Regions from separate parts of the Homo sapiens genome. Here all the other regions are linked to region 3. The links come from fine-mapping of genetic effects on gene expression. A gene starts in region 3. Each other region holds a variant in brackets. All regions are shown on one strand. Distances are from middle to middle. Region 1 overlaps GPR107 (G protein-coupled receptor 107). Region 2 overlaps GPR107 (G protein-coupled receptor 107). Region 3 holds the start of GPR107 (G protein-coupled receptor 107).

What was found.
Region 1: its variant is fine-mapped to the expression of GPR107 in whole blood (TOPMed, PIP above 0.99).
Region 2: its variant is fine-mapped to the expression of GPR107 in whole blood (TOPMed, PIP 0.99).

The regions. Positions count from the first base shown.
Region 1 is chr9:130,127,636-130,137,477 of GRCh38, forward strand. It overlaps GPR107 (G protein-coupled receptor 107), which reads left to right. Exons shown (of 18, transcript NM_020960.5): 17 at 1,005-1,126; 18 at 7,390-9,842. The coding sequence ends at 7,486. Among named protein-coding and RNA genes, the nearest start is that of GPRACR, 12 kb to the right of the region's middle. RefSeq lists an enhancer at 1,323-1,542. The variant C/T (reference allele first, on the strand shown) is at 6,036.
Region 2 is chr9:130,098,647-130,108,915 of GRCh38, forward strand. GPR107 (G protein-coupled receptor 107) reads left to right here. Exons shown (of 18, transcript NM_020960.5): 10 at 811-886; 11 at 1,983-2,056; 12 at 2,460-2,577; 13 at 5,774-5,904; 14 at 8,850-8,893. Among named protein-coding and RNA genes, the nearest start is that of GPRACR, 40 kb to the right of the region's middle. The variant G/A (reference allele first, on the strand shown) is at 5,924.
Region 3 is chr9:130,048,366-130,058,634 of GRCh38, forward strand. GPR107 (G protein-coupled receptor 107) reads left to right here and starts at 5,541. Exons shown (of 18, transcript NM_020960.5): 1 at 5,541-5,708. The coding sequence starts at 5,568. It also overlaps a transcript of FNBP1 not described here. RefSeq lists an enhancer at 489-989 and a silencer at 5,529-5,838.

The DNA of each region.
Region 1 (9,842 bases), 79 kb after region 3:
CAGTTGTTACTAATTTATCTGGGAATGACCACTAAGACCTTCCATCTCTTCTTTTTTTTAACTAAAAATTTTTTTTTTAGTTTTTGAGACAGGGTCTCACTCTGTCACCCAGGCTGGAGTGCAGTGGCGCAATCTCAGCTCACTGCAACCTCCACCTCCCGGGTTCAAGCGATTCTCCTGCCTCAGCCTCCTGAGTAGCTGGGATTATAGGGATGCACCACCATGCCCAGTTAATTTTTGTTTTTTTAGTAGAGATGGGGCTTTGCAGTGTTGGCCAGGCTGGTCTCAAACACCTGATCTCAAGTGATCCGCCCACCTTGGCCTCCCAGTGTTCTGGGATTACAGGTGTGAGCCACCACACTTGGCCTCCTTCCATCTCTTCTGGCCTATAATTGAGATGATCTGTTTGTCCAGAAATGCTGCTGGATTCTATGAGGAATCTGAAAATAATTGCATTCTTGATTTTAGTTTTCAGTCTTAAAAGTCAAGAGAAAAGCTTCAGGTAGAGAAAGATTTGCCCTGAATCATTAGAACTTAGATGAGATGTGGTCCTTTCCTTTAGTTACAGGGCTGAGTAGTTAGAATTCAGGCTGCCCTTCTTCTTTGCCCATTTTATTATTTCGATAATAAGTATCTTTGCGACAAACTAGAACTAGCTTAACTACTAGAGGAAGCCACCAAATGACTTTTTTCTTGAATAACTCACTGGGTGCTGTAGGCACTGTGGGAGGAAGTGGGTATGTGGTGAGCTCTTAAAAGCTACCCATGAAGACTGGTGAAAGCACAGCAGAGCACAGCCTCGGAAATGTCAGCCCTGGGCAGGACACTCCTCGTTTAGGCCTCGGCAAGTCTAAGGAAAATGCCCTGTAGCAGGAAGTGGCATCTGAGTAAAGAACCATCGAGTGGTGGGTTGTGGGGAAATATGTCAGTTTGTTGAATTCCACTGCTTTCTGAAGAACAGTGTTGCTAATCTCTTTATTTTGGGGTGGTTTTTAAACTTGCAGCTCCTGGATGAAACGGCCACACTGGTCTTCTTTGTTCTAACGGGGTATAAATTCCGTCCGGCTTCAGATAACCCCTACCTACAACTTTCTCAGGAAGAAGAAGACTTGGAAATGGAGTCCGTGTAAGAAATCTTTCTTCCCTCTTCCTTAGCCCTGACCCCTTTGCCTAACACAAAGCAGCACAGTGTGAATCGGGTCGGCTGCTCTCAGCATTTCGTGGCTGCAGGGGTGGTTCCTCTATTTTTAGCAGAAGGAAGCGGACACTGGAGCCCCAGGCTGTCTGATCTGGTTTGAAGTACAGTATCTGCCAAACCTAGCTGGGTCTTGTCAGGGAAGATGGAACTTGCCGTTCCACTAAGCATCATTGGAGCCTGCTTTCAAGAACTCAGTGGCAAGAACTTAGGAATATACGTGGCCAGTTCACGAGGGAGAACAGGGGGCCGACTTTCTGTCAGGCCCGCCATCAGGCGCTTACGTCTGAAAATGGAATCTTCTGAGTCATCTCTAAGTCTGCTAATGATCCTCAGACATCCTCTATCGTCAGATAACTGCGTGGCTTTTCACAGCACAATGACTTTGACCTATATCTGAGCACTAATAGGGGCTTTTCTGAGTCACACAGTGAATGACTCTAGGGTCCTATTTTCTGGGAAAGGGCCATCATTGTCTAGAAAAATGAGTAGTGATTAAGCATATTTGCTTGTTAACTGAAATTTGATAAGCCAGGTCAATGCTGTGTTTGATGATTAGCCTAAGGCAGAGTTTTCCCTTCTTGGTTCACTGGTATCAAGTGTTCTGCCCCCAGCCCTGGCAGCCTTTGAATTCTTCCCAATTCAGAGGCTGAGACTCGGCCCATGCTAAGCTCTGCTTGGCTGTCAGCGGGTCAGGCAGCATGGGACAGCTCTCTCTGCTCAGCTCCACGGCAACAGTAAAGGAAGGCAGGTCCTGCCAGCGGGCGCCAAACAGCATCTCCCCATGCAGAGGAAGAAACACCTCCTTCTAAACAGTGGAGAGGAGTGCAGGAGGCCCATCAGCTGTGCCTTTCCCAGAAGTGGCAGGATCTGAGCAAGTGTCTGTTGGTTGAAGAGGCACACATGTCAGGCTGGCAACCAGCAGCATCAGGAAATAACCTAAGACGCGGTGTGTTTATCATTCCCCTGCTGGGAGCCTTTGGCTTGGTCCGTCCGCATAACACGGGGTTCTTTGGGTAGGCAGCTAGAAGCCGAGCGGCCGGGTCGCAGCATCGTCTCCTTTACTGCATTGTACTCCACAGTCGTAATGGGAGGTTCCCGCTTCCCACATCCTTTCCCTCAGCCGTTACATCTTGGAGCCTGGATGCATTATGAAGGTATTTTTGTTTCGTGGCAACAATTTTTTTAAAATTTTGTTTTGGTGCTTCTTTGACAACGCGGCCCACGCAGCTGCCCTCTGTGCAGCCATTACCCCACCAGGCCTGACACAGCTTCTCTCTCTGGGCCTGGGTATGAGGGCACAGTCCAAAGTAACACTGACTTTCTCTCTCTTTCCCCTTCTGTTTCTTTGACCATCTCTCTTTAGGCCTACCAGTTTTGGCAACAGAAGTTACCGGTCAATAATCAGCAAGTTAAAAAGTATCGGATGCGATTTCAATTATCAGACTTGGTAGCTGCCTCCTAGGCTGTGGGTATCCTCAATGATCTGAATTACTTCTGTCATCTTGAGGAGTGAGAGTGGAAGGAAATGTTTGGTGTGGGTTCCTGGGCCAGGAGGTTTTCTCCCTGGGGTTCCCATTCCAGAACGCTGTCCTCATTCATGGTTGCTGTTCACCTTTCACCACTCCCTGCATTATTTCATGTGGGCGAGGAACGTGTGTGGAAATGGGGATTGGGGACTAATAGACTTGTCTCTTCACCAGGTCTCCCCACACTTCCAGACCAGAAAACACTTTTTAGTTATAGAAATGGATATATCGGCTGGGTGCAGTGGCTCATGCCTATAATCCCAGCACTTTAGGAGGCCGAGGCAGGCAGATCACGAGGTCAGGAGTTCGAGACCAGCCTGGCCAACATGGTGAAACCCCATCTCTACTAAAAATACAAAAATTAGCTGGGCGTGGTGGCAGGCACCTGTAATCCCAGCTACTCGGGAGGCTGAAGCAGGAGAATCTCTTGAAATCGGAAGGCGGAGGTTGCAGTGTGCTGAGATCACGCCACTGCACTCGAGCCTGGGCGATGAGAGTGAAACTCCGTCTCAAAAAAGAAAAAAAAAAAAAAAACGCATGAATCCGTGGACCACTTAGGCCCAAGCCACATTTGATTGCAGTCTTGTGTGGCAGAAGGAACCTGTGTCCCATTTGGCACTTTTGGTTGCAAACACAGAGACTTGGGGCTTTGCAAGGAAAGGGGGTTACTGTTTAGATGTCAAGGAAAGAACGCTTATCTGCGGCGGTCGGATGTTGGCCCTTCAGCTGTTCGGTCCCTTAAGTGTTTGCACCAAAACTAGGACACCTAGTGAGGTGGCTGCGAAGCTGCTGAAGCCCCACCGCCGTATGTTCCTGCCAGGGAGGCTTTTGGGTGTTCATCTGACCCAGGTCTCTCTTCTCACTGCTGCAGAGCCTGAGCTTCCAGGACCGTTGCGGGCGCCCTGTCTGCAGGGGGCTAGCCAGGTTTCCTCACATCGTGGGGGCCCCAGGTGTCCCTTCAGCTTCCCAGAGGTTTGCTGGGGGAACAGGATGTAGCGCCTACCCCACCCTGGGCATCTGCCATCAGGTTTCTTCCTCTCCTTGAGTTCACTTCTGCCACTCCCAGTCCTGGCCACACACTGAAGCTCCCTGTCACCCGCCCTGCCTGTGACAACCTCCTGCGCTACCACACACCCTTACTCCCGTTCTCCCTCTTCGCACTCCCAGGACTCACCCAAGCCCAGGGTTGCCCCTGCTACCCCCTCACTGCCCCCGGCCCCTCCTGAATGCCAGGTCCCCCTGTCCTCCTGCTCCGCGTCACCTCAGCCTTGAAGCCACAGTCTTCCTGCATCACACCAAGCTCGCCCCTCCCCATTGTTCCCTATAGGCCTTGGTGACACGGACATCCACCCAGTCTCCTGCAGCCATGGCTGAACCACGTCCCTCTTCCTCAGCCCGTGCAGAGCGTCCTGTAGGCCTTACTTTGTGCCTCTCACCCCCAGCCCCACCCCGCCTCTTGCTCTCGTGCCTGGGCTTTGTGGTGGCTGACCTCTTCACTCCCGATCCTCTCCCCTTCCTGTCCATCCTTCTATTCCCCTGCAGACAGGGTCTCACTCTGTCACCCAGGCTGGAGTGCAGTGGCACTATCACAGCTCACTGCAGGCTTGAGCTCCCCGGGCTCAGGCAATCCTTTCACCTCAGCCTCCTTAATAGCTGGGACCACAGATGAATGCCACCATGCCCAGCTAATGTTTTTGTATTTTTTTGTAGAGATAGGGTTTTGCCATGTTGCCCAGGCTGGTCTCAAATTGCTGGGCTTAAGCAGTCCTCCCGCCTCAGCCGCCCAAAGTGCTGGGAATGCAGGCGTGAGCTGCCCTGGGAATACAGGTGTGCCCAGCCCTTCCTGTCCATTCTCCCGGGCTCTAGAATCACCTGTAGAGTGTTTTTGCAGTGCCAGTTTCCTGGCCGCACCCCTGGAGACTCTGATTCTCACCCCTTGGGCTCAGGATCTGTGCTTTTCTCACTCCCCAGGGCAGCCTGAGCAGGAGGCAGGGCTGAGAACTGCCAGAGTAGGAATCAAGGCCATCCTTGGGTGACCAGGCAGACTGGGCCCTCGACAACCCTGCCGTCCTGTGTCCACCCTGGTTCTCTCCCTGCCACTCTCCTTCCCAGACTGGCTGGATGTATTAAAATATATTTGCCGTAGGCCAGGTGCAGTGGCTCACGCCTGTAATCCCAGCACTTTGGGAGGCCGAGGCAGGTGGATCACCTGAGGTCAGGAGTTTGAGACCAGTCTCGCCAACATGGTGAAACCACATCTCTACCAAAAATACAAAAGTTAGCTGGGCATGGGGACATGTACCTATAATCCAGGTACTTGGGAGGTTGAGGCACGAGAATCACTTGAACCCAGGAGACGGAGGTTGCAGTGAGTCGAGATGGCGCCACTGCACTCCAGCCTGGGTGACAGAGCGAGACTTCATCTCAAAAAATCAAATAAAAAAAAAATATATATATATTTTTATATATTTATATATATATACACATATACAATCCACACACTGCAAGTACTTAGCACTCCCTCACTGCCCTGGGAAATGTCCTGGGTTTTTCCTTCATGCTTTTTGCCTGTTATATTTCTTCTTTTTGGAAACTCCCCTGACCTCCCACCCATCTTGTGGGCCAGATCCTCTGCATCTCATGACGGGCTTCCTGGCTTCCCCGATTCCCCGGCAGAGGGATTCTTCTCAGCCCGAGCCATCACCGAACCCGGTTCCCAGCACTCCTGTCTCTGTTGGAAGTGGCTTTGCAGGGTTGCTGTGGAAGACCATCTCTTCTCCTGGGCTGTGGGCTCCGAAGAGCAATAAGACCACTTCTTTTTCCTTGATGACCTAGCATGAGGCCTGTCTTGAAGAATAAAAGTTGTTTTCTCACTTGGCCCACCATGTGGAAAGGAGTATTTTCTTAGAGAAAGAAAGGGAGAAAATGTTTTTCCCAAGTCTGCCGTCAGGCCCATATCCGGGTCACAGTGAATGCGCTTTGCCTCTTAGAATCAACGTGCATTGAACTCTTTGTCCTTTTTTAACAAGATGCAGTAACCATAGGACAGCTGTGTGATTACTGGAGTGTTTCTGGAAGACGTGGGGTCGCATTTCTTTGTGGTCTCAGTCACTGTGGAGAGGCACGGGGGCTGCTACGTGGCTCGGGGCAGGGGCTTCTCTGGCTCATGCAAAGGCCCTACCTCCTGCATCCCCGTCTAGAGAAGGTCCCTTCAGGAGCAGCCCTGTGCACATGGATCCCTCCTGGGGCAAGTGTCTTCCTAAAGAGGCCAGGCCTGAGACACAAGCCAGCTGGCCAGAAGTGACGCTGGG[C/T]GGCTTCAGCTGAGGCATTTTCGTCTTAGGGGATGCTTTTAGAGTCACTTATAGCATCTATGGGATCTGGCCACATACCTTGTCCCAACTTTGCCATAAGTACAAATAACCTGTGAGTCTAAAGGACTCGTTTGAGAAAGGTTCCGGCTTGGGGGATTCTTTGAGCCTGGGCATGGTAGCACCATAATGGCAAGAATGAAGAGATGAAGAAGAGGGGGAAGTTTTCTTCCCTTACCCCATACAAACATTTACTTACCATGAGGTCCAGCTGCATGCACTCTAGATGGGTCACATATACGGCCACTGTGTTGCCATTTGTAGGGGAAGGGGTTAGGTAGTTGGCAGAGGGATGGGTTGGGTCCTTGGAAAGAGCCTGTTGAGTTGATTGATTGAATTTATTTTACTGATGAGGAAATTTCTTTTGGTCCACCATGGGGGAGCATAAATCCTCATTGTTTCCTCGCTTGCAGGGAAGATGCTGGGCCAAGCGGCTTTTGACACCCAGTATCTCTGCCTAGTTCTGCTACTCACAGAGCCACCCAGTTCCCTCATAGACCAGCTCACCTTCTGTGAGGCAAGAGATTATCCTCTTGAGAAGGTGGGGCCCGTGCATGTGATTCCTTCTAATGGAAAGGGCTGCCTTGCTCAGCTCCTCATGCCCTGCGAGACCAGCGATCTTCCATTTTTAATCCTTGATTTCAACGAATGGCTCCATGGGGCCTCCTCAGAGCCAGGCACCAACAGACAGAGCCCCGGGAGCTCACAGAGTGGAGGCAGAGGCCATGCGCTGAGGCACAGCCACATGGCCCAGCCCCAGCTAGCAGAAAGCAGCCAGTTCTCTGTCTATAGTGGCCAAAGAATCTTTGATCCTGGAAGGTTCCTCTAAACCTGTGGTTCTGTCCCCTGGCTCAGAAATGATCCATTGTGGCTGCTTATTAAAAATGTCTGGTTGGCTAATTAGCTTTCTTTTCTGAATGTCCATTAAGAGTCAGATTTCAGTCTCATAAGCGTAACTATCACATATCTGTGCGCCACAAAAATTCCGCAAGCTGTGACAAAAAGATTCATGATGATTGTGATAACGATAGCTGGTGTTTATTGATTAGGCACTCTGGAGAATCTCATTTTTCCTCATGACAGTTCTGGAAAGTGAGAATTACTTAAGCACAGAGAGTTCAAGTGACTTGGCCAAGGTTACACAGCTAGTAAGGAACGAACCAGGAATCACACTTAGATTTTGTCTGTTTCAAAAACCAACACCCATCATCAGTCCTAATCACCGTGCTGTGGCAGAGATGGCCTTTTACTAAGAGACTGTGAGATGTTCCTAATTGTTTTTTCTTTCCTTGTTCAGTGTGACAACATCTGGGGTGATGGAAAGTATGAAGAAAGTCAAGAAGGTGACCAACGGCTCCGTGGAGCCCCAGGGCGAGTGGGAAGGCGCCGTGTGACAGAGCCGACCCTGAGGATGGCACTGTCCAAGGAAACTGTTAACTTATTCATAGTCCTATTGGACAGCAGGAGCAGCTCCTACAGTGAACTATTGGCACCACCGACAGTGACACCAGGGCACATGGCTGGAGCACAGTGCCGCGGAAACCTGATTTTGTACTCTCTTTTATGGAAACGATCTGTGGCTGTTTAGAGGCAGCTGGATCCTCTTTCAGGCGGGAATGGGAGGGCGGGCACAGGGAGGAGGAGAGGAAGAGAAAAGGAAGAATTCATTTTTAATTTAGGTTTCTTTTTTTCTTCTTCATTTCGGAGCTCTAAGGTGTATGCAGTTGTGACCCCATGTGTGGGGAAGTGTAGCAAGGACGGCTGGTGGAGGGGGAAGGAGGGTGCGAGGTGTCTGTCTGATGCTTTAGGAAATGTCTACTGAGGACCCTGGGACTTAAGAAGAAGGGCGGGGAGAGTGCCATTGCCTGTTTGGGAGACAAAAATGAACGAAAACAGGTGACTTTGGAAAGCAAAGTCAAAACCCAGTTTAGGATGTAGCACCTGCCCCAGGATTCCTGCCCTCGGCTTTGCCCCAGACCCTTATTCCAGATGCTGAGAGTGACCAGGACAGCAGCTCCTGAGGCCCAGTGGTCTTCTTTCCAACAGGAAAAGAAGGCTGTGATGTCGCTGTCAGGATCATGCCCTGTGGCACAGCACAGGTGGTGGGAGGTGGTTTTCTGACTGAGATGTTGCCTGATGGATGGAAAGAAATGTATTTTTAAGTTCAAAAAGCATTATCCTGTGGCGTTGCCTGGACATCCACTCCCTGACAGCCCAGAGCAGCACTGTCTGGCTTCCCTTCATGCTTGTGGCTTTGTTGTGTTTGATCAGAATTTTGGGGGAAATGGAAAGTTTTCCTCAAGGAGCAGCTGGGGGCAGAATAGGTAGTATTTAAGCAAATACTTAAGTCCAAGCAAATCATCCCCATTAAAAAGCTTTTCCTGTAGGCTAGTAGGATTTCTAAATAGATGAATTCAACAGACTTGGTCCCCATAGTCCAAGAGTATGTATGTGAAGAAAGTGAGCATGATTCAACAGTTTCACTCTCAGGGATTTTAGGATGGCAAAATACTTCACAGAAACTCAATGATTAAGTTCCCTTCCACACTTCCAGAGCTTGAATGAACACAGGTAGCCACCTAAATTGAGCAGTATTGCAACTCAGAGAGAAAATCATCTGAATAGTAGGACAAGCTCAGAAGGTACATTGTGACTGAGGGCTTAAAAGGAGACCAAAACATGGCCCCATCAGGGAAGCTTCTTAATGCTTGGGGGGCCAGCTAGGTAGGGTTGCTTCCAAAAGCTGGAGCCCACCCCTGCCTAGGGGTTGTCAGAGAGCCACACCTGCAGGGGAACAGGTACCTCCGAGGGTGAGAGTCGTGGTCTCTGGGAGTTGTTTTCTCACCTCTGGCTTAGAAGGGTCAGGCAGAAACCACAGGATGTGGGGTCACACTCACTGTCCCAAGTTTGGGAACCTGAAAAAGTCTCCATTCAGAACATGGTTGTTCTCCCTGTCCCATGCTATCTTATCTTCCTAAATGACTAATGAGGAAGCGGGTGTTCTTTTTCTGCACTTTGATTCGCCATCTGGGTTCTGTAGGGTGCTCTGAAGGTGTGATCTGCCTTCTGGCTGATGTGGAGGAAGAGCAAGCGCCTTCCCAGGCCACAGCTGCTCACCTCTCGGCAGATATTTTAGGCAAGCATCCGTGTGTCTTCCCATCTTCAGGAGAAAGGTAAATGCACCCTAAGTGTTCACTTCTGGACCTTTTTCAAGTTCACTTGGGACTGTGTGACAGAAGGGAGTTGGAGGGAGGATGGGAATATTTTTAACACTTTGTTTTCCTGTGCAGAAACATAATACCAGTTTTCGCAGAAATGTGTCTCAATCTGTGACTACCAAAGCCCTCCTCAGTCCTTCCCTCAGAGGGACACATTTGCTGTTTCTCCCGCAAGCAGATGTTGTGGATGAGGCGATAGACTCCTTGGCAAGAACGAAAGGTGTGATGAAACCTCCCTGCTCGGAAGGGTCTCCGTGGAGGTGTCCTCATTTCACATGCTGGGTTTTGCAAGCGAGGAAGCCAGGCAGTGGAGGAACTAGAGAGAGGCAGGCGTGTGTGTGGACAAGCGCTGGAGCCGCAGCCCTCAGACTGGCACGGGAACGCCAGCGTTGGGTGTTCAGATTCCACGCGTATGTCTGGGCTCACTCACAGCATGGCCGAGTGTCTGCAGTGCTGGTCCTGACCCTTCCAGAGCAGCAGTGGACAGATGAGATAAGACTGTTTCAGAAACAAAGATGGCCACAGCCTTCCT
Region 2 (10,269 bases), 50 kb after region 3:
TTAAATTGTGTATTAGAGATTACTTTAGGACTCCATTCAAGGCCTTTTTTACCAGCAAAACGTACTTTATAAAAAAAGTGGCTGGGTGTGGCGGCTCACCCCTGTAATCCCAGCACTTTGGGAGGCAGAGGCGGGTGGATTACTTGAAGTTACAAGTTCAAGATCAGCCTGGCCAATGTGGTGAAACCCTGTCTCTACTAAAAATACAAAAATTAGCCAGACATCTTGGCGCACGCCTGTAATCCCGGCTACTCAGGAGGTTGAGGCGGTGGGGGGGCATCACTTGATCCCGGGAGGTGGAGTTAGCGGGGAGCCAAGTTTGTGCCACTGCACTCCAGCCTGGGTGACAGAACGATACTCTTGTCTCAAAAAAAAAAAGTTTTAGCTGGGTACAGTGGCTCATGCCTGTAATATCAACACTTTGAGAGGCCGAAGTGGGTGGATTGCTTGGCCAGGGGTTCAAGACCAGCCTGGGAAACTTAGCAAAACCCTTTCTGTATAAAAAATACAAAACAAATTAGTTGGGCATGGTGGCATACACCTAAAGCCATCCTCCCACCTCAGCTTCCTGAGAGCTGCTTGATCGCTTGAGCCTGAGTTCAAGGCTGCAGTGAGCCGTGATGACACCACTGTCCTCTAGCCTGGGCGACAGAATAAGACCCTGTCTCAAAAAAAAAAAAAAGTTTCATGTTTGTGGTTTGCACAGATTATATTTCCTGTCTCCTTATAAATATAGCTAATGTCTGGAGCTTTGGCTGTCCTTTGGGAGAATGGAATCTTCCTTTAATTGTTTTCTCTCTGTTTTTATAGGAATGATGTATTTAAAATCCACTGGCTGATGGCGGCCCTTCCTTTCACCAAGTCTCTTTCCTTGGTGTTCCATGCAGTATGTATTAGCATTTTGAGGATCATTCATGAAATTACGTATAATGCCTGTGTGAGCAGGCAAAAGAAATTTGAAGAAAGGGGATAGATTGGTGGGAAACAAAGACAAAGAATACATTTCTCATAAAGCCTCCTCTTGTCTGGGAGGGCCTGGCCATGCGGGTAAATGATTACCACCTCCCCTCATATTAGACTTCAGACATCTTCTAATACTGCTTACAGACCTACAGTTTTTCTAGAACACTTATTATTGTTTTTATTTCTTTGTTTTTGGTTTGTTTTGTTTTTTTACCATTTCTAGAGATGAGAGTGCCACCTGCTGACTTGTTTCCACGACTTTTTTTTTTTTTTTTTTTTTTTTTTTTTTTTTTTTTTTTTTTTGAGACGGGGCCTCGCTCTGTTGCCCAGGCTGGAGTGCAGTGGCGTGATCTCTGTTTACTGCAAGCTCCTCCCCTCAGGTTCACGCCATTCTCCTGCCTGAGTCTCCCGAGTAGCTGGGACTACAGGCGCCCGCCACCACGCCCAGCTAATTTTTTTGTATTTTTAGTAGAGACGGGGTTTCACCGTGTTAGCCAGGATGGTCTCGATCTCCTGACCTCGTGATCCGCCCGCCTCAGCCTCCCAAAGTGCTGGGATTACAGGCATGAGCCACCACGCCCGGCCTCCACGACTTTTTTATGTTTCCAGATATTCCCTCATGTTCCTCTGTGATTTGAAGTTCAATTCAGTATTAGCATATTTATCTGAGAGAAAATTGATGCTATAAAGCTGGAGGCATGAGAATTGAGCCTCAGCTTTGTATATTTGGAACTTATGCAAATTAAAATGAACTTGCCCAAGGGGGTAAGATCACAACTTCTCCTGTCTGTGGGCCTCCAAGTGCCCGTGGAGCACACTTGCAAGGATGACAGTCTCTAGACATGTACTCTTTGCTGTACTTGAAAGTGGCCTCCTTGGAAAAGGCAATAATATATCCAGTGGCAGCGTCACCAAATGACAATGATTTGGATAATTTCCCAAATGGGTCCAAGTTAAAAGATTCTTTGTGGAGCCATGTAGATAATGAGTGATTCTGAAATGCAGTTGTTTGATTTCAGATTGACTACCACTACATCTCCTCCCAGGGCTTCCCTATCGAAGGCTGGGCTGTTGTGTACTACATAACTCACCTGTAAGTATGCAGGTCCATGTGAAATACACCATGAAATGACATACAAGACAAGGGGGGTGGGCAACAACCTGCCCCAAGTTAACCAGCCCTGCCCTCCTGTGGCAGCCTGTCTGGGCCCCTGCCATACCAGAGGAGTGTAGCTCATGGGTGGCTGTCCAGACTTGGGAAGTCGGGCTTAGTGGCATACTCCTGCCTCTCTGCGGCCATTGGCTGTCCAGGCTGTGGGGTGCAGAGCTAACTGTGTGCCCTGAAGGAAGTGGTGCTCATGTATGATGGATTTCCTAAATTTGGCTGCCCGTCTTTTGTAAGAAGCTTGTGAACTCATAGAATGAGCTATGCAATCTAACTGGCAGTGAGAGTCTAAAGAGACCTGCTGGTGTCTGTTCCTTGTTTTCTCTTCCAGTTTGAAAGGGGCGCTACTCTTCATCACCATTGCACTCATTGGCACTGGCTGGGCTTTCATTAAGCACATCCTTTCTGATAAAGACAAAAAGATCTTCATGATTGTCATTCCACTCCAGGTAAAAGAACCCTCATCCCATTTGTCACTTCCTTTCTTGGCGCTTAGCAGGGCTCAGCTCCAAGCCTGTATGGGAAGAGGGAGTCACCTCACCCTGAAACCCCAGCTTCTGCTAGTGGAGGTTGAAGACTGAGATTCTCTTTCTGAATTCTGAACAGACTTCAGGTCATTGCACTGGGAGATGCTTGGGCATCAGTCAGCCACTGGCCTTTGGGGGCCTAGATTTTGAGTAGAGAGCTGCTGACAGTGACAGGGAGACACACAGTAACACACAGTACTGTTTTCTCTTCTGCATCATTTGCTTCATAACTAAATGGTGCCCTTGGCAAGGAAGCTCAGAGATGTAGTGATTTTATTAACAAAGTATTTTAAAACCGTGAACTACACCAGTGAGTTTCCACAGGTAGAATATGGTAGTAGACGTGAGGGGCAAACATTTCCTAAATCCTTACCATGTTTGGGGCCGAGGGCCAAGGCCAGCCTTACAAGGCTGTGAGTCTTTTGCGGGAGGAGCCTTGTCTTACTGGAAGCAGAACTTGGATGTAAAGAACTTACAATGAACAGAGAGGTTTTAGCAGGGATGCACAGCTACCCTGCTCTGCTTGACCAGACAGCGTCTGTTTGACAGAGTTGTCCCTGTGAACTTTTCTCACATTTTGGAGCACAAAGTAAATGTGGAAGGTTGGGGGTGGAAGGGGACAACTCCTGAGGCACCCAGATCAGCCGTCCCAACTCTGGCAGAGTTTGCAGCAGAGCTCCTCTCGGAGTTCTAACAGACCTCATCCACCCTTACGTTCAATAATGAGGAACATGTGTTGACATCAAATGAATGGGACAGGCCAGTTGCTCTGTGTTTCCAAGGAGAGAATAAGCACTCAAGTTGGAAGGATCAAGGAGGGCTTTGTGACAGAGATAGGGCTGGCCTGGGTGTTGAAGGAAAGGAATGTGACAGAGGCAGTAAATACACATGACCCTGCTGTCTGCTAAGCAAAACATGCTGAGGGACTGTGCCGGTCTTTCGGCTGTCGAGCCACCGTGGTCACTTCTTCAGCCAGACTGAGTCCTACAGCCTGCCGAGGTCTCGGAGTTGTGAATGACGGAGACTGGGTTGTCACCCGGCTGCGTGTGCCTCTTCCCTTTAGTAGAGTCCCTCATCCCTCTAGAGTCTCCCCCCACCAGCCTGAACCAGGCTGTCGTGGGGCATAGCCTTCCAGGAAGCCCGTCCTGGGCTTCCCTGAAAGACAGACACACAGAGTTCCATGGAATGTCAGTCTGAGAAGATAAGGACATTTAACAAATTAAGAAAGTCATGAGTATTTAGACAATAGAACTAGTCTGGGAGGGCCTTAAATGTCAGCCTGAAAAGTTAAAACTGCTTCCTTTTGGCCATGGGCAGTGACAGAAAGTTTCTAAGTAAGGAGTAGATGATGTCCCTGCAAAATGGTGTTTCAGGAACACTCTTGGCACGTTGTTCAACACTGGGAACATTCTGTCTCTCATGCAGTGTGTGAATTAAGGACAAAATGGAATTTTGAATTTAAGATGTGAAAGCCTTTGTTTTCTACTTTGTCCTCTTACTTTTAGACAGGGTCTCACTCTGTCGCCCGGGCTGGAGTACAGTGGTGATCATGGCTCACTGCAGCCCTAAACTCCTGGGCTCAGGCGATCCTCCTGCCTCAGTCTCCCGAGTAGCTGAGACCACAGACGTACACCATCACACCTGACTAATTTTTAATTTTTTTTTTTTAATTAGAGGCCGTGTCTCACTATTTTGCCCAGGCTGGTGTCAAACTCCTGGGCTCAAGCAATCCTTCTGCCTTGGCTCCCCAAATTTCTGGGATTATGGGTATGAGCCACCGCACCCAGCCCTACTTTGTCTTTTTAGATGGAGCCACAGATGCTAGTGTTTTGGATAGACAGGGCTTCACGAGCAGTGTGGGACAGGGAAGGACCCAGAAGCTGGGGGTCATTGGAGAGGCTGAAATTTCAGATAATTTTTGCATTAGTTTTAAATGAAATTTCGGATAATTTGATTCTAAGTCCTGTATAGAAAGAGAAATTAAACTTAGAGACTTCCTAAATAATAGCACTACAGATTTTACATGCAAAGTGTGGAGGATTACCTTTTACAGCAAGTCAGGCAGAGATTTGGGACCAGGGACTTCTCATGGGGTATATAGGTGGAATGATAACCTCTGCATCCATTCCCAGTGGTAATCTTCAAAAGGATGTATTATAAGTGGTAAATTTCCCTTATGCTCTGTGGCATCTCAGTTTAGCCAGTGGAAAGACTTTTTATAAAGACTTATGCTAAGAGCCTAATAACGGGCCTGAGTACAGAGCTTAATAGTGGGCCTGAGTATATGAGGCTGTAGGGCTGGAATCAGCCATGCTCACCCTCTGGTCTCTGAAAACACAGTTCCATTGTCTGGCACTTAGATGAGTTATTGTCACTGAGCACCATGGCCTGAAAAGTATGGGCATTGTGGCTAAATAGGGTGTTAAGTGCCACCTATCCAGCAGTCCAGCACCTGAGTGACTCCACTGGGTTTGGGGTACCTGAAAAGCAAAGTGTCCCTGTTATCTACTGCTGCATAACAAATCACCCCAAAACTCAGCGACTTAAAACGACAATAACCCGTCATTCTCTCTCTCAGTTTCTGTGGGTTAGGAATTCAAGAGTGGCTAGCTGGGTAGGTCTGACTTGGGTCTTGTGGTCATAGTCACACCATGGCTGGGAGCATCTTGAAGTCTCCACTCGCATCTGTCTTCTGGGCTGAGAAGCTTGCTCAGGTGGGGACTGGGACAGCCGGGGCTCCTGGGGGGGCCTTTCCATCTCTGCATGGTCTGTACAGCAGGGTAGTTTCAGGGTAGCCAGACTTCTTACAAGAAGGCTTAGGGCTCCAAAGGTCCCAAGAGAGCTGGGTGGAAGCTTTATCTACCTTGGAAATCACACAGCAGTACTTCCATCTTACTGTATTAGAGCAATTACGGCCTGTGCAGATTCAGGGGGGTGGCATAGAGACTCTCCTTGATAGCGGAGTGGCAGAGTTCTGGAAGAGCACGTGGGACTGGAAAGAATGCTGTGGTCGCAGATCGTGGGTCTGGAGGCCAAGGTGTACACCCCACATTGGGGCTGCTAGCATCATAACAGTCCACCCATGCTTTGGGGCCTCAGCAACTTCTCATGTCTGTAGGTCCTGGCAAATGTAGCCTACATCATCATAGAGTCCACCGAGGAGGGCACGACTGAATATGGCTTGTGGAAGGACTCTCTATTTCTGGTCGACCTGTTGTGTTGTGGTGCCATCCTCTTCCCAGTGGTGTGGTGAGTAGCTCACAGGGAG[G/A]GAGGCCACATGACAGCTTGGCTGTCAAGCCCAATAGCTGAACTGGCCATTCCCAAACTGATCTCAGTCACATGGGACGTGTGTTTAAAAGTACAGCTTTCTGAGTCCCAGACTGACCTGAATCAGCCTCCAGGGGCAGAACCCTGTGTCTTTTTCCAGTTACTCGGGGTATTCTGGCAGAGCTAATCCGTCACCATGAGCTGGCATTTAACAGAGTTCTAAGACAATAGAGAGGAATTGGGAAATGAGAACTTGGTAGTAACTTAAAGTAGCAGCCTGAATTTGTGGTGGTGGTAGGGAGTTGGAGAAATCCCATAAACAGCCAGTTCTTGCCAACTTAGGTGGAAAATGAGGAAGTTCATTAACATAAAACTAGTGATAGTTCTCAGCACACAAACATTTTTGATGTTTTCAGAATGGATTGCTCCATTCCTGGAAATGGCAGTGTTTAGATGCACAGATTGTGCATTGGGTCTGTGTAAAGAAGTGTTAGTGTCAAGTCAGTGGTTGATGAGAAAATATCCTTATTAAATCACATGCAGAGTGGTAGAAATTCAGAAGGCTAGCAGCAATAAAACACTTTACCCTTAGTGATATAATTCCATGGCTATTGGAATGCAATTCTTTTGAAATAAATTTTAAAGAAAATAGATTCACCCCGGCCTTCCATTACAAGTGCTTCTTTTTTTTTTTTTTAACCCGAGATGGAGTTTCGCTCTTGTTGCCCAGGGTGGAGTGCAATGGCTCAATCTCGGCCCACTGCAACCTCTGCCTCCTGGGTTCAAGTGATTCTCCTGCCTCAGCCTCCTGAGTAGCTGGGATTACAGGTGCGTGTCACCATGCCTGGCTAATTTTTTTTGTATTTTTAGTAGAGACAGGGTTTCGCCATTTTGGCCAGGCTGGTCTCAAACTCCTGACCTCCGGTGATCCACTTGCCTTGTCCTCCCAAAGTGCTGGGATTATAGGCATGAGTCACCGCAGCTGGCTGAGGTGCTTCTTATTGCAATGCCCCATCCAGTAAATTAATATTTTTGAGGATCCTGGGGTTTGTCAGTTACTCTCATTATTTATAACATGGTGCAAATGGAGAGTACTTCTCATTCCAGCCAGTTAGATTCACTCTTCACCCTCATTCCATCATACATCACACATGATCTCGTATCAGTTCAGCAGACAGCTACCAGCATAGAAGAGAGTATGAATGATGCTCCCACCTCAGCCTCCTGGGTAGCTGGGACCACAGGCACACACTACCATACCCAGCCAATTTTTTGTAGACAGGGTTTTGCCATGTTGCCCAGGCTGGTCTCAAACTCCTGGGTTCAAGTGATCTTCCCACCTCAGCCTCCCAAAGTGCTGGGATTATAGGCATGAGCCACCGCACCCAGTGGAATATGAATGACTCTTCCTCCTCACTGCAGCCTCCTGCCGTCCTGCACAGGAATTAGTCACTCGGGTATCTAACATAGGATGTCCAGCATTGTTTCCAGATCGAAAAGAGCACCTCATTAGGGAACAGAGGTTCACACCCTACTTTTACACATGCCACTATCAGAATAGTCAAATATAAGGAACCCCAACAAGCTGTCGAGGTGTAAGCAGCCATTTCCTGCCCCTTGTTAATTACAACACTAATGAGCAGATTCCAAATGGCAAAATTCCTTAAGGTAAATATCCTAAAAATTACTGTAAAATGAAAAAAGTCAGTAAGTACTGGAGAGGTGATTCAAGATTAATAATATTTTTAGGCTGGGCGCGGTGGTTCACGCCTGTAATCCCAGCACTTTGGGAGGCTGAGGTGGGCGGATCACGAGGTCAAGAGATCGAGACCATCCTGGCCAACATGGCAAAACCCCATCTTAACTAAAAATATAAAAATTAGCTGGGCGTGGTAGCATGTGCCTGTAGTCCCAGCTACTCGGGAGGCTGAGGCAGGAGAATTGCTTGAACCCAGGAGGCGGAGGTTGCAGTGAGCCAAGATCATGCCACTGCACTCCAGCCTGGCGACAGAACAAGACTCTGTCTCAAAATAAATAAATAAATAAATAAATAATAATAATAATAATAATACTTGTAAATATCCCGATTCAGCCAGCATTGCTTCAGGGCCAGCAGTGTACTGGTTAGCTTTCGTGTGGTGTTCCATTCAGTTCTCAAGCAGATAGCCCCTCTCACAGGTGGGCAAATTACGGAGGATTTAGGAAGAGTAATTGATTTGCTGACAAGAGTGAGTGACAGTGTCAGACCACAGCCGCCTTCCCTCACACAGCCTGTCTGCCTGTGCCCTGTTCAGCCCTCAGGGAAGTCTCTCTGTTGGTGGCTTTTCATGGTGCCTCCACCTCTCACCTGCGGCTCCTGTAATAATGTTAATGTTCCTCTGCCTGAAATGTAATGATGGTCATTAGGTACCAGCACATCACAGCCCCAGACAGTGTCCCTGGAGGCTGGCATTTTTCAGCAGTGTTAAAAATCTCCACTCGATAAGTTTGCATGGTGCTGTATGTTCACAGCTCTTAGACCTAGACTCTAGAAGTCAGCTGGTGACTTTCTTCTAGGGTTTATTCTCTCCTGGTGGCAGGTGAGCCCAGTGATGCTCCATTGTCATGGGAGTGTTGGGTAGGGGGTGGTTGTGGGAGTGAGAGATTAACAGGAGCATTAAATGATGGAGTTTTGTTTTCTCCTCACGCTCTGGTCCCTGCTAGACTTATTGCCACAGATTTGGCCAGCAGAGGGCGACTTTACCTCAGACGTGTTGATATCAACCATTTCCCCCCCTCTACCCGTTTTAGGGAGAGTGCTCTAAAGTGATGTAGTCCAACCTTTCAGCATGTAATTGAGAAATTCAGCCTCAAGTTACTAGAGCTGGAAATAGAGAGGAGTGCAGATTTGTCAGCTAACTTTTTGTTCTCTAAATGTTTATTTTTAGGTCAATCAGACATTTACAAGAAGCATCAGCAACAGATGGAAAAGGCAAGTTCTCTCGTGCTCATTTTGTGTTGCTCAGCTTGCTCTGAACCCACGTGCTGCGGCACTGCGGAGGAGTGGAGGCAGCCTATGGTGTCAAGATGCTGTCTTCCTGGGAGGAGAGCTAGGGGAGGCCTGGGGCCCACTTCGTGAGAGCAGCCAGGGGTAGTTTGGAGAAGGAGGTGTTGAGTCAGTTGTATAAGGAGGAGGTTGGGGGTGACTGCTGCTTATTAAGATGATTCATTTCATTTCCACTCGTGGTTGTGATTTTCACCTTCTCAAAACTGAGTCAGCAAGAGAAAATCTTGTCTTAGAAGGGCCAGATAACACTTCGCTGTGAGAACAGGAGGGATAATGGATTGGAGATGGCTATGTGTAAAGCAGCCCTGCCTGCTGATTTAACACACTTTCAAAATAGATGTGTCAGTATTCATTTAAAGCAAGACTCTGATGACAGAAGGAACCTTGAAAACTACCTGATATTGAAATGGTTGTGCCCTTTATAGCCCTTTTGCATCTCCTTGACTTTCCAGTCATGCCTCCTAAATCAGAAGAAAAGCTGCAAAGAAAATGTTTTGTGTGGTTCTGGGCTTATTTGAATAATGTTCATGACCACAGGCTGCCATAGCACAAGTGAGAATTTCAGACCACAAGGGTTTAAGGAGCAGTGCTCTCTTCTCTCAAAGCTCAGAACGGTCTCTGGATCCATGGTATCGTACACCCAGTGTGGATATTAACATTCTTTAATGCAGGTTATGAATAATAAATAAAACAGGTTTTTGTTAATAAAGTTTTGTTGCTGACTCTATTTCTGATTATAAAGCCAATGTAGATTCATTTTAGAAAATTCGGAAAATGCATAGTAGCTGTAAATCTTCTTTCACAAACCTGGTATATAACTAATAACGCATTATTTCTTTAAGTTAAATTAAACATGACTTTGAGGCTTCACGCCAGGGTCAGCCCTAGGTTGTTATTTAGAGCACAGTATTCTGGAGGATCTCGCCAGTTTGGGCCTGGAACAGATAGTATGGCATTCCTGCTGTCCAGGTTCACGTAACTCTTGCTCCTAGGCAGCCTGTGTGCAAGTCATACCCAGGCTTGGAGCCTTGGTCAGTGGTCAGAGGCCAGCCTCCCAAGGCCCACTCAGCTTCTGCGACCTGCACCAGCTTTTGTTTTCTTTCTAGTCCTGGGAATAGCCCTTCTCCCGTTTTCTCATTTTTTTCCCCTCAAAGATACCAGGTTCCCTTCTTTTCCCTCTGGAGTGTCCTCTTGTGATAGGTTCTTTTCAGTGGCTTTAAGCAGGTTCTTTTCAGTGGCTTTAAGCAGGAGTCACAGAGCTTTTGCTTCTAGCCGGGCTACATAGCCTTTCTTGGAGCCCA
Region 3 (10,269 bases):
TTAGTCTGAAATGAAGGAACTGGGGTTGAGTACAGTCTTTGGTGTTAGCCAGATTTGTATAGTTCTGTCCAGACAGCTATAGAGAGCTTTGGCTGAATTACTTTCCTTCTCTAAGCCTCAGTTTCCTTTTTTTTTTTTTTGAGACGGAGTCTCGCTCTGTCGCAGTGCAGTGGCGCGATCTCAGCTCACTGCAAGCTCCGTCTCCAGGGTTCACATCATTCTCCTGCCTCAGCCTCCCAAGTAGCTGGGACTACAGGCGCCCGCCATCACGCCCGGCTAATTTTTTGTACATTTAGTAGAGACGGGGTTTCACCATGTTAGCCAGGATGGTCTCGATCTCCTGACCTCGTGATCCACCCGCCTCGTCCTCCCAAAGTGCTGGGATTACAGGCGTGAGCCACCGCGCCCGGCCCAGTTTCCTCTTTTTTTTTTGAGATAAGAGTCTGGCTCTGTCGCCCAGGCTGGAGTGCAGTGGCGCCATCTCCGCTCACTGCAAGCTCCGCCTCCTGGGTTCAAGCCATTCTCCTGCCTCAGCCTCCCGAGTAGCTGGGACTACAGGCGCCCGCCACCATGCCTGGCTAGTATTTTGTATTTTTAGTAGAGACGGGGTTTCACCGTGTTAGCCAGGATGGTCTCATCTCCTGACCTCGTGATCCGCCCGCCTCGGCCTCCCAAAGTGCTGGGATTACAGGCATGAGCCACCACTCCCGGCCAGTTTCCTCTTCTTTAAAATGTAAATATGGCCATGCACAGTGGCTCATGCCTGTAATCCCAACACTTTGGGAGGCCAAGCCAGGCAGATCGCTTGAGACCAGGCATTCAAGACCAGTTTGAGCAACATGGAAAAACCTGGTGTCCACAAAAAATAAAAAAATTTGCCAAGCACAGTGGTGCACAACTGTAATCCCAGCTACCCGGGAGGCTGAGGTGGGACGATTGCTTGAGCCTGGTAAATTGAGGCTGCAGTGAGCCTTGATCATGCCACTGCACTCCTGAGAGCGAGACCCTGTCTCAAAAATCAAAAAATAAAATAGAAATAATGCTACTTCAAAGGTTATTGTAAAGGTTGAAAGAAAGGTGGCTTATGCCTATAATCCCAGCACTTTGGGAGGTGAAGGTTGGAGGACTGTTTGAGCCCAGGAGATTTAGACCAGCCTGGGCAACATGGCGAAACCGTCTCCACAAAAAAATACAAAAATTAGCCCGGCACGGTTGTGCTTAGCTACTTGGGGGCTTGAGGCAGTAGGATCGCTTGAGCCTGGGAGTTGGAAGCTGCAGTGAGCCGTGATTGCACCACCGCACTCCAGCCCGGGAAACAAAGTAAGACTCTGTCTCAAAAAAAAATAAAAATAAAAATAAAAATTAAAAGAAAGAATACGTATAAAATGTTTAGCACATAATATACACACAAGTATCAGTTCCCTTTCCTTTCCTCCTGTTTTCTGGAGGATTTTTACTTATTGTAGAAAATAAAGCAATCCTTTCAGCATTTTCTTTTTTTGTGTGTGTTTTGTGTTTTGTTTTTGTTTTTAGAGAGGTCTTGCTCTGTTGCCCAGACTGGAGTGCAGTGGCATGATCATAGCTCACTGCAGCCTTGAATTCCTGGATTCAAACCATCTTCCCCAGTAGCTGGGAATACAGGCCTTTAAACATTTCTGATGCAGCAGGACCGCCTGCCTGAACTTACAGTTGATTGGTTGTCTACTGGTGAAGAACTACTTCTAATGAAATTCTCAGGATTTTTTCTTCTTCAAAATTACTTGTTTTTAGCTTAAAATTTCCAACTTCTTTTGCATTCGAACTACTTACTAGGGACTCAAGAAAGCAATCAACTGGAAAAAGTGGAGTAGGATAAAACCAGGAACTCCATGGTGAGTGAAATGCTAAAACTGCAATGAATTTTTACAACGAATAATCCAATTCCCCTGTAAAGATGTACATAAAATCAAGAAAGACTGCCTGTCCTGTGGCTGAGCAAGTTATACACTAGGGTCGTCAGGTTGAGGAGTAATTTTGAAGTTTCTCTCCAATCCACAGGACTCAAAGTGTGTCAGAGCCTGGCTTTTCCATGATCACTTTCTACAAAAAGATGCACTTGGAGGCATTCCCGACACCCCAAGAAATGCATGAAAACTTTAGCTGCAATCCTGGAAGAAATGGTGTTTCAAGCCAAAGAATGAAAAGTAGCATTTGACTTCTGAATGTATTGCTAGGCCCCAATTTGACCACTAGTTTCCTATACTGTCTTAACAGAGGCTTTTGGTTTGCAATATCAATCAACTCTTTTTTTTTTTTTATTTGACAGGGTCTTGCTCTGTCACCCAAGCTGGATAAAAGTGTCATGGCTTACTCCAGTGTTGACTCCTGGGCTCAAGCAATCCTACCACCTCTCTGCCTCCTGAGTAGCTGGGACTACAGGTGCGTGTCACCATGCCCGCTAATTTTTGTGTTTTTTTTTTGTTTTTTTGTTTTTGTTTTTGAGACAGAGTCTTGCTCTGTCGCACAGGCTGGAGTGAATTGGTGCAATCATGCTCGCTAATTTTTTTTTTTTTTGAGACAGAATCTCGCTCTGTCACACAGGCTGGAGTGCAATGGTACAATCTGGGCTCACTGTAACCTCCGCTTCCCAAGTTCAAGCGATTCTCCTGTCTCAGCCTCCTGAGTAGCTGGGATTACAGGCATGCGCCACCATGCCTGGCTAATTTTTGTATTTTTAGTAGAGATGGGGTTTTGCCATGTTAGCTAGGCTGGTCTCAGACTCCTGGCCTCAGGTGATCCACTGACCTCAGCCTCCCAAAGTGCTGAGATTACAGGCCTGAGCCACCGCCCCTGGCCTAATTTTTGTATTTTTTGTAGAGAAGGTGTTTCACCATGTTGCCCAGGCTGGTGGCAAACTCCTGGGCTCAAGTTATCCACCAGCCTTGGCCTCCCAAAGTGCTGGGATTACAGGCATGAGACACCAGCCAGGCCTATCAAGTCTTTTGATAAGAAAAACAAATGGCAATTATACTTTCTTAAACTGGAGACTATTAACACATTAATTACTTAAAAGAGTTCTGAAAATGTCCAAACCGATATCAAATAATTATTTAATAATAATAGCACTAGATTCAACACTACACATTCTAGTAGCAACCTTAAGCTGATCCTGAAAAGTTAGAGAAAATAGTCCAGGCAGGGTGGCTTACGCCTGTAATCCAGCAATTTGGTAAGCCGAGGTGAGCAGATCACTTGAGGCCAGGAGTTCAAGACCAGCCTGGCCAACATGGTGAAACCCCATCTCTAGCAAAAATACAAAAATTAGCTGAGCATACTGGCGCACACCTGTGGTCCCAGCTAGGGAGGCTGAGGCATGAGAATCCCTTGAACCTGGGAGGTGGAGACTACAGTGAACAGATGTCACACCACTGCACTCAGTCCTGGGCAACAGTGTCTCTGTCTCAAAAAAAAAAGGAGAGAAAATAGAAAAATAAAATGTACTTGACTAAGAGAGTAAGGCTAAAAGCCAAGCTTAGGAGATCAGTCTTTCCAGCCCCTGCAGGCTTTTTCAGTCAATACCTTAAAGTGTAATGTCCCTTTGAAAATGTTGCCAGGAGAAGCAGGCATAACTTGTTCTGTTACTCAGCCTGTTTGTTTCCAGTTACAGCATCATGATTATGCAAATAATCTTTTCTTGAAACTATGAAATCACATGGCTAAATGTAATTGTCAAGGCAGCAGTTTTCTAGAATTTAAGAAGTAACTGTAGAGAAAATGCTCAACAATGTCTTTGTAGTCAGTTTTCCCTCATTCTTATTCCTCTCAATTCCAAAATAATGACTGGCACAATACAGCTTTCAAATATGTGAAAGAAGAAGATATCCTCTTAAACCCCTGGACAGACAGCACTGGTATGACCCTATGTAGGTCACATGATAATACCCAAGTATAGAGAAGCAAGGAATGCTATGAACCCAGTTTTAAGCCCTTATAAAACTGTTGTCCAGAAACTAAGACAAAAGTCTCCTATTTAAAACTATTTTAATGTTTCATCACTATTGTATTATAAAATGGGATTAAGATTCTTACCTGATTTTTTTTTTATTGAGACAGAGTCTCACTCTGTCACCCAGGCTGGAGTGCAGTGGCATGATCTTGGCTTACTGAAACCTCTGCCTCCCAGGTTCAAGTGCTTCTCCTGCCTCAGCCTCCCCAGTAGCTGGGACTACAGGCGCGCGGCCGTGATGCCCCGCTAATTTTTGTATTTTTAGTAGAGACGAGGTTTTGCCATGTTGCCCAGGCTGGTCCCGAACAACTGACTTTCAAGTGATCCGCCCGCCTCGGCGTTCCAAAGTGCTGGGATTCAGGCGCGAATCACCACCCTGCCAGGCCTCATTTCGTTTTTAGTACAGTATTATATTCAAATTTAAAACCAGAGATTTTCAAAGATGCCACTTAACTTTAAAAGATAAAAAGTACTCCAAAGCAGGTTGGGCGCAGTGACTCACGCCTGTAATCCCAGCACTTTGGGAGGCCGAGGCGGGAGGATAACTTGAGGTCAGGAGTTCGAGACCAGCCTGGCCAACATGGGAGAAACCCCGTGTCTACTAAAAATACAAAAATTAGCCGGGCGTGGTGGCGCAGGCCTGTAATTCTAGTTACTCCAGAGGCTGAGGCAGGAGAATCGCTTGAACCCAGAAGGCGGAGGTTGCAGTGAGCTGAGATCGTGCCATTGCACTCCAGCCTGGGTGACAAGAGCTAGACTCCGTCTCAAAAAAAAGAAGTTCCTATAATTTCTGAAAGAAGCAAAGAAAGTTTCCATACAGAATTAAGAGAAAAATGTTAAGACCCAGACTTGGGGTTGGATGAAATAGCATGAGGCAACAGAACACAGGAGTTAAGAGCTTCCGTGTGATTCCCAGCTCAACCTGGAGCAAATGACTTATTTCTCAGAGCCTCAGTTTGCTTACCTGTAAAGTAGGAATAATGATAATACGTACCTCCTAGCTCATCAAATTGTTCCAAAAATTAAATACAACAAAAGGCCTAACAAATTGCCTCATAAGGGCTCAATCAATCGTATTATTGCAACCATTTCGCTTGTATTTGAGTGTGAAGCGCCTAGAAAACCACAGGACCCCTACGGCGAGCCGGGAATTTTTAGATATTTTCCTCCGAGTCAACGCTCAGTGAAATCAGTTCAATCAGTGGCCCGACACCGTGCGGCTGACACAGCTTATCCCCCGACCCTGAGATCAGGGGTCCCCGGAGCCCAAGGTCGCTTCCAAAGCTCAGCGAGGCGGAGGTGCGGCCCGGGCTGGTCTGGTTCGGCCACCGTTGTTATGGCAACCGCCAATAGGTTGGCTTCATCTCTAACTGAAAGTCTGCACAGGAGCGGCCGATCGAAGGGCCCCGAGGTGGGCAGCACAGGCTCCTCGACGACTTCCTAGGTCGCAATCTCCAGGAAAACGACCACAGGGTCAGCGGAGCTAGCCGCCGAGCCCCGCTCCCCGGGCCCTTCCGGCGGCTGCGCCCTTTCACCCCGGACGTGGGCGGGAGAGGAAGCGGCTGGTGATGCTGGAACAAACATGGCCGCTCTGGCGCCCGTCGGCTCCCCCGCCTCCCGCGGTCCTAGGCTGGCCGCGGGCCTCCGGCTGCTCCCAATGCTGGGTTTGCTGCAGTTGCTGGCCGAGCCTGGCCTGGGCCGCGTCCATCACCTGGCACTCAAGGTAAAGCTTGGCAAGGCCGGGCCGGGGGGCGGAGGCCGAGGCCACTCCCCGGGTTTTAGGGCAACTTTGGCCCATTGGGGACCTCTGAGCCACTGGACCACCTCTTTGCCCCTGGCTGCGGCCTTTCACTGACAGGTGGCGGGGTCTGTGGGGAAGGCGGGTCTGGGCGGCGCTGGGGTCTTCGGGCTGACCGGCACGGGGCGGGAAGACTCGAGCTGAGGGAGGGGAAGGGGCTGAACTGTGGCGTTGCCCCCACGGACTCGGGAGGCTGCTCTTAAATCCCTGCTGGCTTCCCTGAATTCCTCACTCAGGGCAGCCCGATCGCCTTTCTTCTTTCTCCCCTCCAGCTTTTATGCTGGCTTTCCTTGTCCGCGGTCTCCGCTCTTCTGTGCCCTTGTACTGTACCGGCGGTTTGAAGGTACTTGGAACCTTAGCCTCAGTTTCCCATTTCGGTTTAGGGCGCTCTCTGGAGCGAGACTCTAGAGAAGGAATTTCAAATCTTGCTTAAAACACGTGACTGAGAATGTAAAGCCAGCATTAAGGTGTGTCTCTAATCAAAGGGCCTGCTTTTTCTTCCTCTATCCAGCCATTGTCTAGGGAAGAGAGATTTTTGATAAACCTAGAATGATACTCTGGATCTTGCTTTGTAACTAGCAGAGAAAAGACCTCTAAGGCTGAAACGCACCCTAAGGTGGTTCAGCAGTTTACTATATCTGGGAAATTGTCCAGGTGCTGTGGCTCATGCCTGTAATCCCAACACTGGGAGGCCTATGCAGGAGGATTGTTTGAGCCCAGGAGTTCGAGACCAGCCTAGTCAACGTGCTAAGGACCCCCTCCCCAAACCTGTCTCTACAAAAAATTAAAAATTAACCAGGTGTGGTGGCAAACGCCTGCAGCTTCTGGGGAGGCTGAGGCTGGAGGATCACTTGAGCCTAGGAGGTTGAGACTGCAGTGAGCCGTGATTACTCATTGCATTCCAGCCTGAGGAACAGAGCAAGACCCTTTCTCAAAACATATAAACAAAATTAGAGACATAGAAAAGTAAATTGTTATGACCCAAACTCTTGTACATTATTTTCATACCATACAGTCTTCTAAGAAGTGGAACTGTAGGCGGGGCGCGGTGGCTCACGCCTGTAATCCTAGCACTTTGGGAGGCCGAGGCAGGCAGATCACGAGGTGAGGAGATCGAGACCATCCTGGCTAGCACGGTGAAACCCTATCTCTACTAAAAATAAAAAAAAAATTAGCCAGGCGTGGTGGCAGGCGCCTGCAGTCCCAGCTACTCGGGAGGCTAAGGCAGGAGAATGGCGTGAACCTGGGAGGCGCTTGTAGTCCCAGCTACTCGGGAGACTGAGGCAGGAGAATGGCGTGAACCCGGGAGGCGGAGCTTGCAGTGAGCCAAGATCCCGCCACTGCACTCCAGCCTGGGCAACAGCGCGAGACTCCGTCTCAAAAAAAAAAAAAAAAAGAAGTGGAACTGTAGAAAGTTTGTCTTGTAAAAACACATTGTTTTAGCAAACTATGAAGCATTGTATTTTGTTAATGTAGAATTTAAAGAATACAGAATGAAATTAAAAGCCTGGCTTGACTGGGCACGGTGGCTCACACCTATAATCCTAGCACTTTGGGAGGCCGAGGTGGGCGGATCACCTGAGGTCAGGAGTTCGAGACCAGCCTGGCCAACATGGCAAAACCCCTCTCTACTAAAAATACAAATATTAGACGGGCATGGTGGCACATGCCTGTAGTCCCAGCTACTTGGGAGGCTGAGACAGGATAATTGCTTGAACCCGGGAGGCTGAGATTGCAGTGAGCAGAGATCATTGTGCCACTGCACTCCAGTCGGGGCGAAAGAACTATACTCTGTCTCAAATAAATAAATAAATAAATAAATAAATGCAAGCCTGACTGGATCCATACAACCTTACTTTTTGGTAACAACTTTTGTTGTTTGTAGGTAAAAATTATCCTGATTAAAATGGTTCAATCACAGGGGTGGGGGTGGGGCAAGTGAATTTTGACTCTTTGAGAATCTGTTGAGAGCTATAGAACCTCTCTCCAGAAAAGTGCATGTAGAAATGTAGACAAAACTTGGCCGGGCACGGTGGCTCACGCCTGTAATCCCAGCACTTTCAGAGGCTGAGGTGGGTGGATCACTTGAGGTCAGGAGTTTGAGACCAGCCTGGCCAACATTGTGAAATCACATCTCTACTAAAAATACAAAAATTAGCCAGGCGTGGTGGCAGGTACCTGTAATCCCAGCTACTCGGGGCTGAGGCAGGAGAATCGCTTGGACCCAGGAGTAGGAAGTTGCAGTGAGCCAAGATTGAGCCCCTGTACTCCAGCCTGGGCGACAGAGCAAGACTCCGTCTCAAAATAAATAAATAAATAAAATAAAATAAACATCCGAAGTCAGGGGTGTCCAATCTTTTGGCTTCCCAGGGCCACATTGGAAGATGAAAAGTTGTTTTGGGTCACACCTAAAATAGACTAACAGTAACCATAGCTGATAAGCTTTAAAAAATTGCAAAAAAATCTCATAATGTTTTAAGAAAGTTCACAAATTTGGCTGGGCGCAGTGGCTCACGCCTGTAATCCCAGCACTTTGGGAGGCCGAGATGGGCGGATCACAGGGTCAGGAGATTGAGACCATCCTGGCTAACAAGGTGAAACCCCGTCTCTACTAAAAATACAAAAAATTAGCCAGGCGTGGTGGCAGGTGCCGGTGGTCTCAGCTACTCGGGAGGCTGAGGCAGGAGAATGGCATGAACCCGGGAGTCGGAGCTTGCAGTGAGCCAAGATCACGCCATTGCATTCCAGCCTGGGTGACAGAGCGAGACTCCTTCTCAAAAAAAAAAAAAAAAAAAAAAAAAAAGAAAGTTCACAAATTTGTGTTGGGCCGCATTCAAAGCCATCCTGGGCCGCATGCATCCTGGACAAGCTTGTTCTGAGTTCTTGCCCAAGGAAATGGAAATCATTTGAAGAGAGCCTGTCAGAGCAGCAACTTTAGATTGTCTGTTTTGCTTGAGACTGAGTGAAATAGGGTACTTGATCAGATTAGAGACCCATAATGGCAAGGATAACATGAAGAGGTCACTGAGTACCAGGAGTATGCGTTGATCTCTTAAAACCTGGCTGCGCCTGGTAGCTCACACCTGTAATCTCAGCACTTAGGGAAGCTCGTTTGAGGTCAAGAGTTGGAGGCTGCGGTGAGCTATGATGGCGACACTACACTCTAGCCTGGGCGACAGAGCAAGACCCCATCTCAACAACAGCAACAAAAATTAGCCAGATGTGGTGGTGCATACCTATAGTCCCAGCTACCAGGGAGGCTGAGGTGGCAGGATCCCTTGAGCCTAGGAGTCAGAAGCTGTAGTGAGCTATAATGGCTCCAGCCTGGGGGACAGAGTGAGACCCTATTTCTTAAAAAAAAAAAAAAAAAAGACAAAGCAAAACAACCTTTTTATTGTGGAGAATTTCCAATATACTAAAGCAGATAGAATAGCATAATGAACTCCCATGTGCCTGTCACCCTCAATAACCATCAACACATGGCTGATTCTGCCTCATCCCACATACATCAATTTCTGGTTCTTATTTTTTATTATTTTTAAAATTAGAAATGAGTCCTCTTATATTTTTATTGTCTTACTCCATGCTACATTTTCCACCATTCTTCTGGCTTTCCCAGTCTTCTCACAGTCCATCTCTTTTGACTTTTCCCTATATTCCTTGCCTTTTTATTTATTTATTATTATTATTTTTTTTTTTTGAGACAGAGTTTTGCTCTGGCACCCAGGCTGGAAAGCAATGGCGCGATCTCAGCTTACAGCAACCTCCGCCTCCCGGTTCAAGCGATCTCCTGCCTCAACCTCCCAAGTAGCTGGGATTATAGGCATGCGCCACCACGCCTGGCTAATTTTTGTATTTTTAGTAGAGATGGGGTTTTGCCATATTGATCAGGCTAGTCTTGAACTCCTAACCTCAGGTGATCCACCTGCCTCGGCCTCCCAAAGTGCTGGGATTACAGGCGTGAGCCACCGCTCCTGGCTATTTATTATTTTTGTTTATTTTTTTAAAGACCTGTCAGCAGGAAATACTCCTTGCCTTTTAAGAACAACTTTATTGAGGTATAATTTACATACCATAAGATCACCCATTTTAACTGTATAATGCAATGATTGTTAGTAAGTTTACCGAGTTGTACAGCTATGACCACAATCTAGCCACAGAACGTTTCTGTCACCCCATAAGATCCCTTGTGTTGGTTTAGAATCAATTCCCATTCCCACCACTAGTCCCAGGCAGCCACTAATCTACTTTCTGTCTCTATAAACCTACCCTTTCTGGATGTTTAATGTAAGTGGAATCACAGGATGAGTAGGCTTTTTTTCTTTTTTTTTTTTTAGACGGAGTCTCGGACTGTTGCCTAGGCTGGAGCGCAATGGCGTTATCTCGGCTCACTGCAACCTCTACCTCCCAGGTTCAGGCGATTCTCCTGCCTCAGCCTCCCGAGTAGCTGAGATTACAGGCACCTGCCACCACGCTCAGCTAATTT